Regions from separate parts of the Homo sapiens genome. Here region 1 is linked to region 2. Evidence: fine-mapped expression QTL. A gene starts in region 2. The other region holds a variant in brackets. All regions are shown on one strand. Distances are from middle to middle.

Evidence for each region. PIP is the estimated chance that this variant, and not a neighbour inherited with it, causes the effect.
Region 1: its variant is fine-mapped to the expression of CRAMP1 in whole blood (TOPMed, PIP above 0.99).

Annotation. Positions count from the first base shown.
Region 1 is chr16:1,635,050-1,639,428 of GRCh38, forward strand. It overlaps CRAMP1 (cramped chromatin regulator 1), which reads left to right. Exons shown (of 21, transcript NM_020825.4): 5 at 2,775-2,858. Among named protein-coding and RNA genes, the nearest start is that of CRAMP1, 25 kb to the left of the region's middle. The variant G/A (reference allele first, on the strand shown) is at 2,691.
Region 2 is chr16:1,610,156-1,614,507 of GRCh38, forward strand. CRAMP1 (cramped chromatin regulator 1) reads left to right here and starts at 2,205. Exons shown (of 21, transcript NM_020825.4): 1 at 2,205-2,502. It overlaps IFT140 (intraflagellar transport 140), which reads right to left and starts at 1,917. Exons shown (of 31, transcript NM_014714.4): 1 at 1,813-1,917; 2 at 509-698. It overlaps LOC105371046 (a long non-coding RNA gene), which reads left to right. Exons shown (of 3, transcript NR_135176.1): 3 at 1-173. RefSeq lists silencers at 244-623, 1,862-2,391, 2,412-2,531, 2,562-2,721 and enhancers at 1,652-1,711, 2,100-2,600, 2,601-3,101.

The DNA.
Region 1 (4,379 bases), 25 kb after region 2:
CACCACACCCAGCTAATTTTATATTTTTTAGGAGAGATGAGGTTTCACTATGTTGCCAAGCTGGTCTTGAACTCCTGAGCTCAGGAAATCCACCTGCCTCGGCCTCCCAAAGTGCAAGGATTACAGGCGTGAGCCACCACGCCTGGCCTGTGCTTTGGAGTTTTGAAGAGCACACCGTGTGCACTTTATCATGGGTTTGTCTGACTCATCTTGTGGCGTGAGACACAGAGTGGTGGCAAGCGAGCGTGGAAGGGACTGACTCCGCCCCCAGCTTGGGGGCCTTGCGTGTGTGTTCGTCTTACTAATCTCCCGTGGTTTCCATGCACATCTGCGTTTCCTTGCTGCTGTCCATTGCTCAGTGGAGATTTTGCTTCACGAACTCAAAGTTGGATGAGGTGAGCTTGGTTCCTGTCCCTGAGTGTGTAATAAAACATGAGGTGCCACCTAGGAGGCCGTGGGGCCAGGCGGGGCATCAGGGACACCTCCCGGAAGCCCTGCTTCGTCCCAGGGTCCCACCTCCCCTGGGGTCCCTTGTCTGCAGTGTCTTGCTCTTGGTGCTACTTTCTTGTTTCTGGGTTGTGGGTTTTTTTCTTTTTGCCATTTCAAATAGTGGACTTTAAAATATATATTTTAGAAATGGGGATATTATTCACCCTTTTAAAGCATACAACTTAGTGGTTCTTAATGTACTTACAAGGTTATGCAGCCATTGCCACTCTCTAGTTGCAGAATATGTCCATTGCCCAGGAGGAAACCCTGTGCCCCGGTGCTGGGAGCCCTCAGTTTACTACCTCCTGTCTCTATGGATCGTTCTACTCTGGATGTTTCATAGAAATGGGATCACGTGCTATGTGTCCTTCTGTGCCTGGTTTCCTTCACTCAGCGTCAGGTTTCAGGGTTTGTCTGTGTTGTAGCGTGTGCCAGTCCTTTGTATGGCTGGATTATTTTCCTTTGGGTGGATGGCCACATTTTGCTTGTCTACTGAATAGTGGATCTTAAAGCTTTCCGAGTCATGGGCTCCTTTAAGAAAGTCTGATGAGGCCAGGCGTGGTGGCTCACGCCTGTAATCCCAACATTTTGGGAGGCCGAGGTGGGCGGATCACCTGAGGTCAAGAGTTTGAGACCAGCCTGACTAACGTGGTGAAACCCCGTCTCTACTAAAAATACAAACATTAGCAGGGCGTGGTGGCGCATGCCTGTAATCCCAGCTACTTGGGAGGCTGAGGCAGGAGAATCCCTTGAACCTGGGAGGCGGAGGTTGCAGTGAGCTGAGATCGCGTCACCGCACTCCAGCCTGGGCAACAAGAGCGAAACTCTGTCTCAAAAAAAAAAAAAGAAAGAAAGAAAAAAAGAAAGTCTGATGAGCCCTTAGGTCTTAGGTCTTTCTCTCAGAAGAGCCTTTGAGAGCAGTTGGCCTGTGCTTAGCCGTGTCCGAGACCCATGGTCCAGAATCCTCCTCATATCTTGAAAGCCTGCTTCTCCATTTACCAGTCTTAGGGCCTTGAGAACAGGTCTCTGAGGAGAGAACTAGAGAGGACAATTGTGAGAGTAGAGGGGACAAATGGCCTTCACCCCTGCTCTGTGAAGTGACCCAAAGGGGCCTGGACTGTGTTGTCACTTGGTTTCCCTAGCAGGATTAGGTCTGGTGTAATACAGTAACAAAATGCAAAATAGCAGTGGCCCAAGCGCCTCAGAATTCACTGTCTCGTGGCAGAGACGCCTAGAGGCTGGCGCCCAGGGCAGGCAGGACCCAGGTGCCTCCCATTCTTGTGCTTGGCTGTCCTTGGTGACAGCTCCAGGCAGTGGCTCTTGAGGAAAGAGGGGTGGGAAAAGGGGAACCCTCCTGCCCAAATCAGGCTCTTTAAGGAGGCTTCTGGAAGTCTCCACTACTTCCAGTGGTGTAGCCATGACCAGCTGTCCATGTCTCAGCCTGTTTGCCTCCCAAATAAAACAGGGGCCTTGGCTGGGCACGGTGGCTCATGCCTGTAATCCCAGCACTTTGGGAGGTTGAGACAGGTAGATCATTTGAGGTCAGGAGTTCGAGACCAGCCTGGCCCACATGGTGAAACCCTGTCTCTACTAAAAATACAAAAATTAGCCAGGCCATAATGGTGTGCACCTGTAATCTCAGCTACTTGGGAGGCTGAGGCAGGAGAATCTCTTGAGCCTGGGAGGCAGAGGTTGCGGTGAGCCGAGATCATGCCACTGCACTCCAGTCTGGGCGAGAGAGTGAGACCCTGTCTCCAAGAAAAGAAAAAAAAAAAAAACAGGGCCTCTTACTGAGGAAGGAGAATGGGCCTCAGGCAGGGGTGAGCACCTGTCCTTGGCTCCTCCTCCCGCCTGGGCCCGGGCTATGCAGATCCACTGTCCTGGGAGGGCACAGGTGAGGCAGGAAGGCAGCATCCAGGTTTCAGGGCTGCTGGCCTCACCTGTGTGCAGAGATGGATGACAGGTTTAGTGCTGGCCACATCTGCCACCTTCACGAGTACCAGCTGTTCTGAGTGTTGTGTTTTCTCCTCCAGGGGACATTTCCTCTGCCTATTGGGGTAAATTTCTAACGCCCCACTTTGGTTTAACTTTTTATTTTGAAAATCGCAGACACAGCACCGTGTTCTATACACTCTGCCCAGTGTCCCCTGTGGTTGACAGCTTGCATGACAAAGGTACAGGGAGGAGATCCAAGAAACCAC[G/A]TGAGCCTGGTGTGGCTCTCACACCCAAGCCAGGCAGCGCCTCCTGTTCCCCTCTCTAAAGCCGCCTTCTCTTCTGTTTCTCAGTGTTCTCTCGAGGCCTGAAGAAGTCATCCCAGGAACTGTATGGCCTGATCTGCTATGGCGAGCTGCGCAAGAAGATTGGGGGCTGTGAGTACGCTGACTGTGGGGTTGCCCACGGCTCCTCCTGTCCTTTGTCACCTTTGGGCTTTAGTGCTCAGAGTTGTTTCTAGTTTCCCTCTAACTTTTATCTTGAAAAAATTTTACTAGAAGAGGTGAAGAATATGATGGCGGCCGTGCTCTTTAGCTTAGATGGACCTGTTGCTGACGTTGGCTACATTTGCTCTCTTTCTCCATGCACATGCACACATGCTCGCGTGCACACATGTGTTCACACACTCTGCATTCCACTCGACTGTAAGATGTCACGCCACAGCCCAGAATACCTCCACCGGCATCACCTCAGAGAACATTTCTCCTATATAGCCTTGATACCATGGTCGCACCTAGACTTTTAGCATTTACCAAACAGGTGTAGTGATCTTACCTAATTTCCTGCCCATATTCAGATTTTCTAAAACATCCCAAAATATCAGTCAGGGCTTCTGTCAAGGGCCGTTGCCCTGCATGTGACTGTGGAGTCTCCCTTGGGTGTCTTTGACTTAGAGCGGCCGCACTGCCTGGGCTTCTGAGACATTGCAACGCGCTCAGGCCTTCCTCACGCAGGCCCTTGCTTGGATTTGTTCCGATCGTCTCCTCGGGACCAGATTCCCTTGAGACATTTTTGACACGACCTCTAGGTAGGGACATTGTAGACTTACCAGGCGCTTGTGCCCAGCGCCCCTCAGCCCTGCTTCTTCTGCCTGACTTCATAAGAAGAGAGCATGCCTGGGCTGTCCAGTGGGCACTGTAGGGGATCCCCCCCTCTTCAGTGGGATACTGCACGACCACGCCAGCTAGCATGTCACAGCTCAGGGCGGGTGGTGGGGCTGAGAGGACAGATACGGAGCAGTCGCCCTGTCTGTGCCAGGCCTGCACCACACTCTGTCCCCTTGCTGCCCCTCCATGCCTTGCTGTGTCCTGCGGGGTGGCTGCTGCAATCTAGTGTGGCATTTGTGTGTGGGAGGCCCTGCCCTCCTGCACTTCCCCACTGGGTCTGTCCCCTGTGGGCCCAGCCACTCCTCTTACCTCCTCCAGCCTGCCTCTCCAGCCCGCACTCATGTCCGTGGGCCTCGTGTCCCAGCTCTTCATGCCTGTTCCTGCCGCCTCTCATCTGCCCTCTCTCAGCCTTGGGAAGCATCCCAGGCCCCAAGGAGTTTACGCCACAGCTCTCCCAGCTCTCATCTTCCCCAGATAAAGGAAAACCCCATCTTGACCATGTGTTCCCACTCCTTGTTGCCTGGTCCTTTTGCACCACTGCTTGTTCTGGTTTCCTCCCTAGAAGCTTCTGAGAGGTGGAGGGTGTCCAGGTTCTTGGCATTTCGAACAAAGAATTGTACAAAATGCACAAACAAAGCAAGGGAAGAATGAAGCAACAAAAGCAGAGATTTATTGAAAACCAAAGTACACTCCACAGGGTGGGAGTGGGCCCGGACGTAGGGGCTCAAGAGCCCTTTTACAGAAGTTTCCCCCTCTAGAGGGGGAAACCTCTAGAGGTTTCCCATTGGCTGC
Region 2 (4,352 bases):
GCCACCCTACAAAGCCTCGCCCTCCAGGCCACAGTCCAGAGCCTTCGGCCTGCGCAGGGTCCTCGCTGCATCCAGCGGACGGTACTGAGAAGCCATGCGCTGGCGGTTTGATGCAACACGACCCTCAGGGCCGACCCAGCGAGTGACCAAACATAGCATGTTTTTGTTTTGCATCTCTCGTTTGTCCCGTTTCGCCTCGGGGGTGTGATGGCGCCGCCCACCTCCCCACCCCGCCCATTCCAAAGGGACTCTCCCAGCTACCGGAATCAGCCGCGATTCGAGGCCGGGCGGGGGCGACAGCCATAGTCCGACGAGCGACCTGGACCCCGCGCCAAGCCCGCCCCAGCCTCGATGGGACTCGCGAGGGGCCGCGGGGACTCGGCGGCGCCGGGATCGTGGGAGGAGACGGGAGGGTCCCGACGCCCGCCACCGGTCACATCCTCGGCCCCAAACCCCGGCCTGGCTCCTAAGGACCTGGGTCGGCCGCCCTAGCCCTAAGGCCACTCACCTCTGCCAGGCCGCTGAGCCGCCGCGCGTTGCCGGGACAACGGCGCGCCAGGAACGCGGAAATAGCCGAAGGTGAGCGAGGCGGCCCCGAGGACTCCCGAAGCGCCCCGAGCGGCCGGAAAGAGCCGAAGGCGATCGGGCACGCACGTGCAGCTCCGAGGCCCGAGCGTCGGGGGCCAGGTTATTCCGCTCTGCAAGAGAGAAGCGGGACGAGCTTTTTCTAGGAGAGACGGCGGCGCAGGGCCGGCGTCTGGGTCCCCTTTGTGTGGAGGGCGCGCTGTCACAGCCCCGATCAACCGCGGCATCCTCCCCTCCTGGGCGTGTTCCCTTCCCGTGCATCCCGAGGCGGAGCCTTTCCAGCACGCGGCGGTCTCGGCCCAGGCCTTCCCTGGGCTCCGCTTTTCTAGTTTCGGAGCGGAGGGCGTGGGTCAAGCGTTTCTGGGAAAGTCGATGCGCTCGGCAGTGTCCTGAGGTGTTGGGTGACTGAGGGCCTGTTCCATCGCCGGGCCCCGGACTCCACAGAGCCAAGCGAGGCAGGGAGCGCCCCCAAGAAAGCAGCTGGCGGCCGGACGCGGGGCTCGCGCTTGGGCTTCCAGCTCTTGGGGGCTGGGGCGGGCGGATCGTTGGAGCCCAGGAGTTCGAGACCAGCCTTGGCAACAAGGCGAGATCCTGTCTCTAAAAAATTACAAAAATTAGCCGGGCGCGGTGGCGCCTCTAGTCTCGGCTACAGGAGGCTGAGGGAGGAGAATCGCCTGAGCCCCGGGAGGCGGAGACTGCAGCGAGCCGAGATCGGGCCACTGCACTCCAGCCTGGGCGACAGAGCGAGTCAAAAAAAAAAAAAAAGAAAAGAAAAAGAAACACTGGAATTTGAGCCGGGCGCGGTGGCTCACGCCTGCAAACCCAGTACTTTGGGAGGCTGAGACGAGCGGATCACTTGAGGTCAGGAGTTCGAGACTAGCTTGGCCAACATGGTGAAACCCCGTATGTACTAAAAACACACAAATTAGCGAGTATGGTGGCGCGCGCCTGTAATTCCAACTACTCGGGAGGCTGAGGCAGGAGAATCGCTTGAACCTGGGAGGCGGAGCTTGCAGTGAGCCAAGATTGCGCCACTGCACTCCAGCCTGGGCGACAGAGCGAAACTCCGTCTCAAAAAAAAAAAAAAAGAAAGAAAGAAACACTGGAATTTGAAAAACACCCCTCTGCTTTCTTGCTATGAAGAAAATGACCAAGTGCCCAGCGCCGCTCGGCTACGCTAACGTAGCGCAGAAGCACATACTCCACCCAGGAAAGGGTGCGCTTAACTGCCTCAGACGTGCTTCCACACTTCTCAGAACTCAGGTTCGCGCCCGATTCCACACTCCGAGCTACCACGCCGTTTTCTTCTCACGTATCCGTCAACACTGCTGCGGCCAATCACAGCACGGGCCCTGGCCTATTGGCTGTCTGTCCACCAATCCAAAGAGACGCACAGTCCGCAAGGTCGCGAGGCTGGCGTCACAACACTACTGGCGCCGCGGGCTCGCCCCCGACGCCCACCGGGCTCGTACGTGCGAGCGCGCCCGCCCAGCGCTAGCCAATGGGAGCGCCGTTTTGGGGAGACGGGCCCGAAGAAACATTGGGGGTGCTCGCCCCCGCGTTCGTCGCCCCGCCCCGCGCGCCCGCGCACCCCGGCCCCGCCCCCGCGCGCCGTCCGTGAGGTCCCCACCGGCCGCCGTAGCCGGAACTGCTGCTGAGGGCGGCGGGCCGGCTTCGCTAGGGTGAGTGGCGGCAGTATCTGCGTCCGCAGCCCCCGCAGCCGCGCGCCGGCCCGCGGAGGGGACGTGCCGGGGCTAGCGCCGCTCGACCAGTCGCTTCCGAGGCGGACGACCAGCCCGGCGTTGCGGCCTCCCTGCAGCCGGCGCTCGGGGGCCGGGGCTGCCCGGCCCGGCTGGTTCTGCGGGCACCCGGGGAGGCCCCGGGAAGCCAGGCTGCCGCCCGGCGTTGATGAAAAAGGTGACCAAGGCTGGGCGGCGGGGCTGTCATGGCGAGGCCCGGCCGGGGGGTCCTGTCGGGCGGCGCGGGAGAGCGCGGGGGGGGCGTCGCTTCCACAGCGCCCGGTACAGCCACAACTGGCCTCAGGGCGAGGAGGCTTCTGCGTCCCCATCCCGAGACGCGAGCCGGTGCGGAGCGGGACGGGGCTGGAGGAGACTGCGCCTCCGAGAAAAGTCCGGTCTCGTTGGAGGTTCTCGCGAAAAGGAGGCCATCCCCCTGCTTGTTGGCCCTTAGGGTAAAGTCTGGACGGCGTCGGTCCTTTCAGTGGCGAAAAGCGCTTCCCCGTGCTCGGTCGGCGTCTTGGGTGTGGAGCCCGGCGAGCGGGCGAGTTCACTCTGGTGGCCGAGTTTGTTTTGCTTGGGTCCCGGGTGGCCTGCGGGCGGACAGGTCCCTGGGCAGCGGGGTTCTCAGCCCGAGACGAGGTCTTTGGGGGTTTAGGTTTCTTGAGTGGAAAGAGGTGGGTTGAGGGGGAAGAGTGGGAAGTCTTGCCACGAAATCCCTTAAGTTGGGGTGTTTGTCGTGGGTGGTTTTGTTCTTTGGCAGAGTTTTTTTTAAAACTAGCATGAACTCGAGATTCCCTAGACCAATTCCGACAGGAGAAAACGGCCACGGATCCTTGTGTGATCTGCACCTCAGGGTGGGGGCATCATTGCGACTTTGAAGCCATTTCCCGATCTCTCGGAAAGAGAGGTCCTCGCCCGCGTCCCTGTATTTCGTGGTTGGTGTTGGTGCCTCGATCGTGTGTTCCTTTGAAGTGGAAATGCCCCCGTTCTCAACAGTTGAGTTGAACGCAGGGTCAGTATCTGCTGAGGAATCTAATCTTCAGCGTTTTTGCTTCCTCACACGTGCCCGTCCCGGACTGTTTCTGGGCTGCAGCTCTTGCTGTGTACCTGATTGTCTGAGTTTATTTTTGAGTGGCTCTGCTTTCTGGGCTGCAGCATTTTTAGTCACTGCACTTTGTTGTTGACATTTTACAGGGCGGTGGGTAGCAAAGTTGATGCAATAATTTTATTAATTGTTGCCAAGAGTTTTAACACCATTGTCTTCTACCGCTTCTTGCACCTGGACCCGGACATAACTGGGCTGTCACTTTCCCGGGTGGTTCCAACCTGTTCCATGCAACAGGCTCCTTTGTTGCAAAAGCATTTTTAACTAGTAAATCCCCGCAGCAGCTCACATTTCCCACCCTGGGAAGAAGATTCCCAGAGACCCGGAGCTGATTATTCTTTATGTGTGTTTTAAAATAAGCAGGCGGGCCGGCGGCATTGGGCCACCATGGAGTTCCCCGTGCGGGCAGGCGAGCCCGCGCTTCTCCCGTCCCGGGGTGGATCCGGCCTCCTCTGTCCTCCTCCAGGGCCAGCTCTGGGGGCCGGCGCGTGGGGCAGGTGCGCGGGGCCCGGGAGCCCCGCGCCTTTCGGGGGGCGGGGAGGGGGTGGGACGAGGGGCTAGGGCTGGGGCTGCGGCCCGGCCGGCCGAGGCGGCGCAGGGAGCGAGGCCGGCGCGCAGGGCCAGGCCATGAGCCGCGGCCCCGCCGGGTAGGTGGCTGTGGGCGGGGCAGCGGCCCGGACCCGCAACCGTGCCCAGACCCGCGCCCGCGCCGGGGCTCCCATAGACCCCGGGGCCGGGGCCGGGGCCGGGGCCGGGCAGGGTCCGCCGAGCTGTCGCGCCCTCCCGCCGCCGGCCCGGGCGTCTGGACGCGAGCCTCGGCCAGGGGGCGTCCGGGGAGGCCCGGGAGGGTCCCGGGCTGGTGGGCAGGGCCGGGGGCGGCGGCGTGGGGGCGGCAGGGGCCGCGGCGGGCTCGGGCGGGCTCG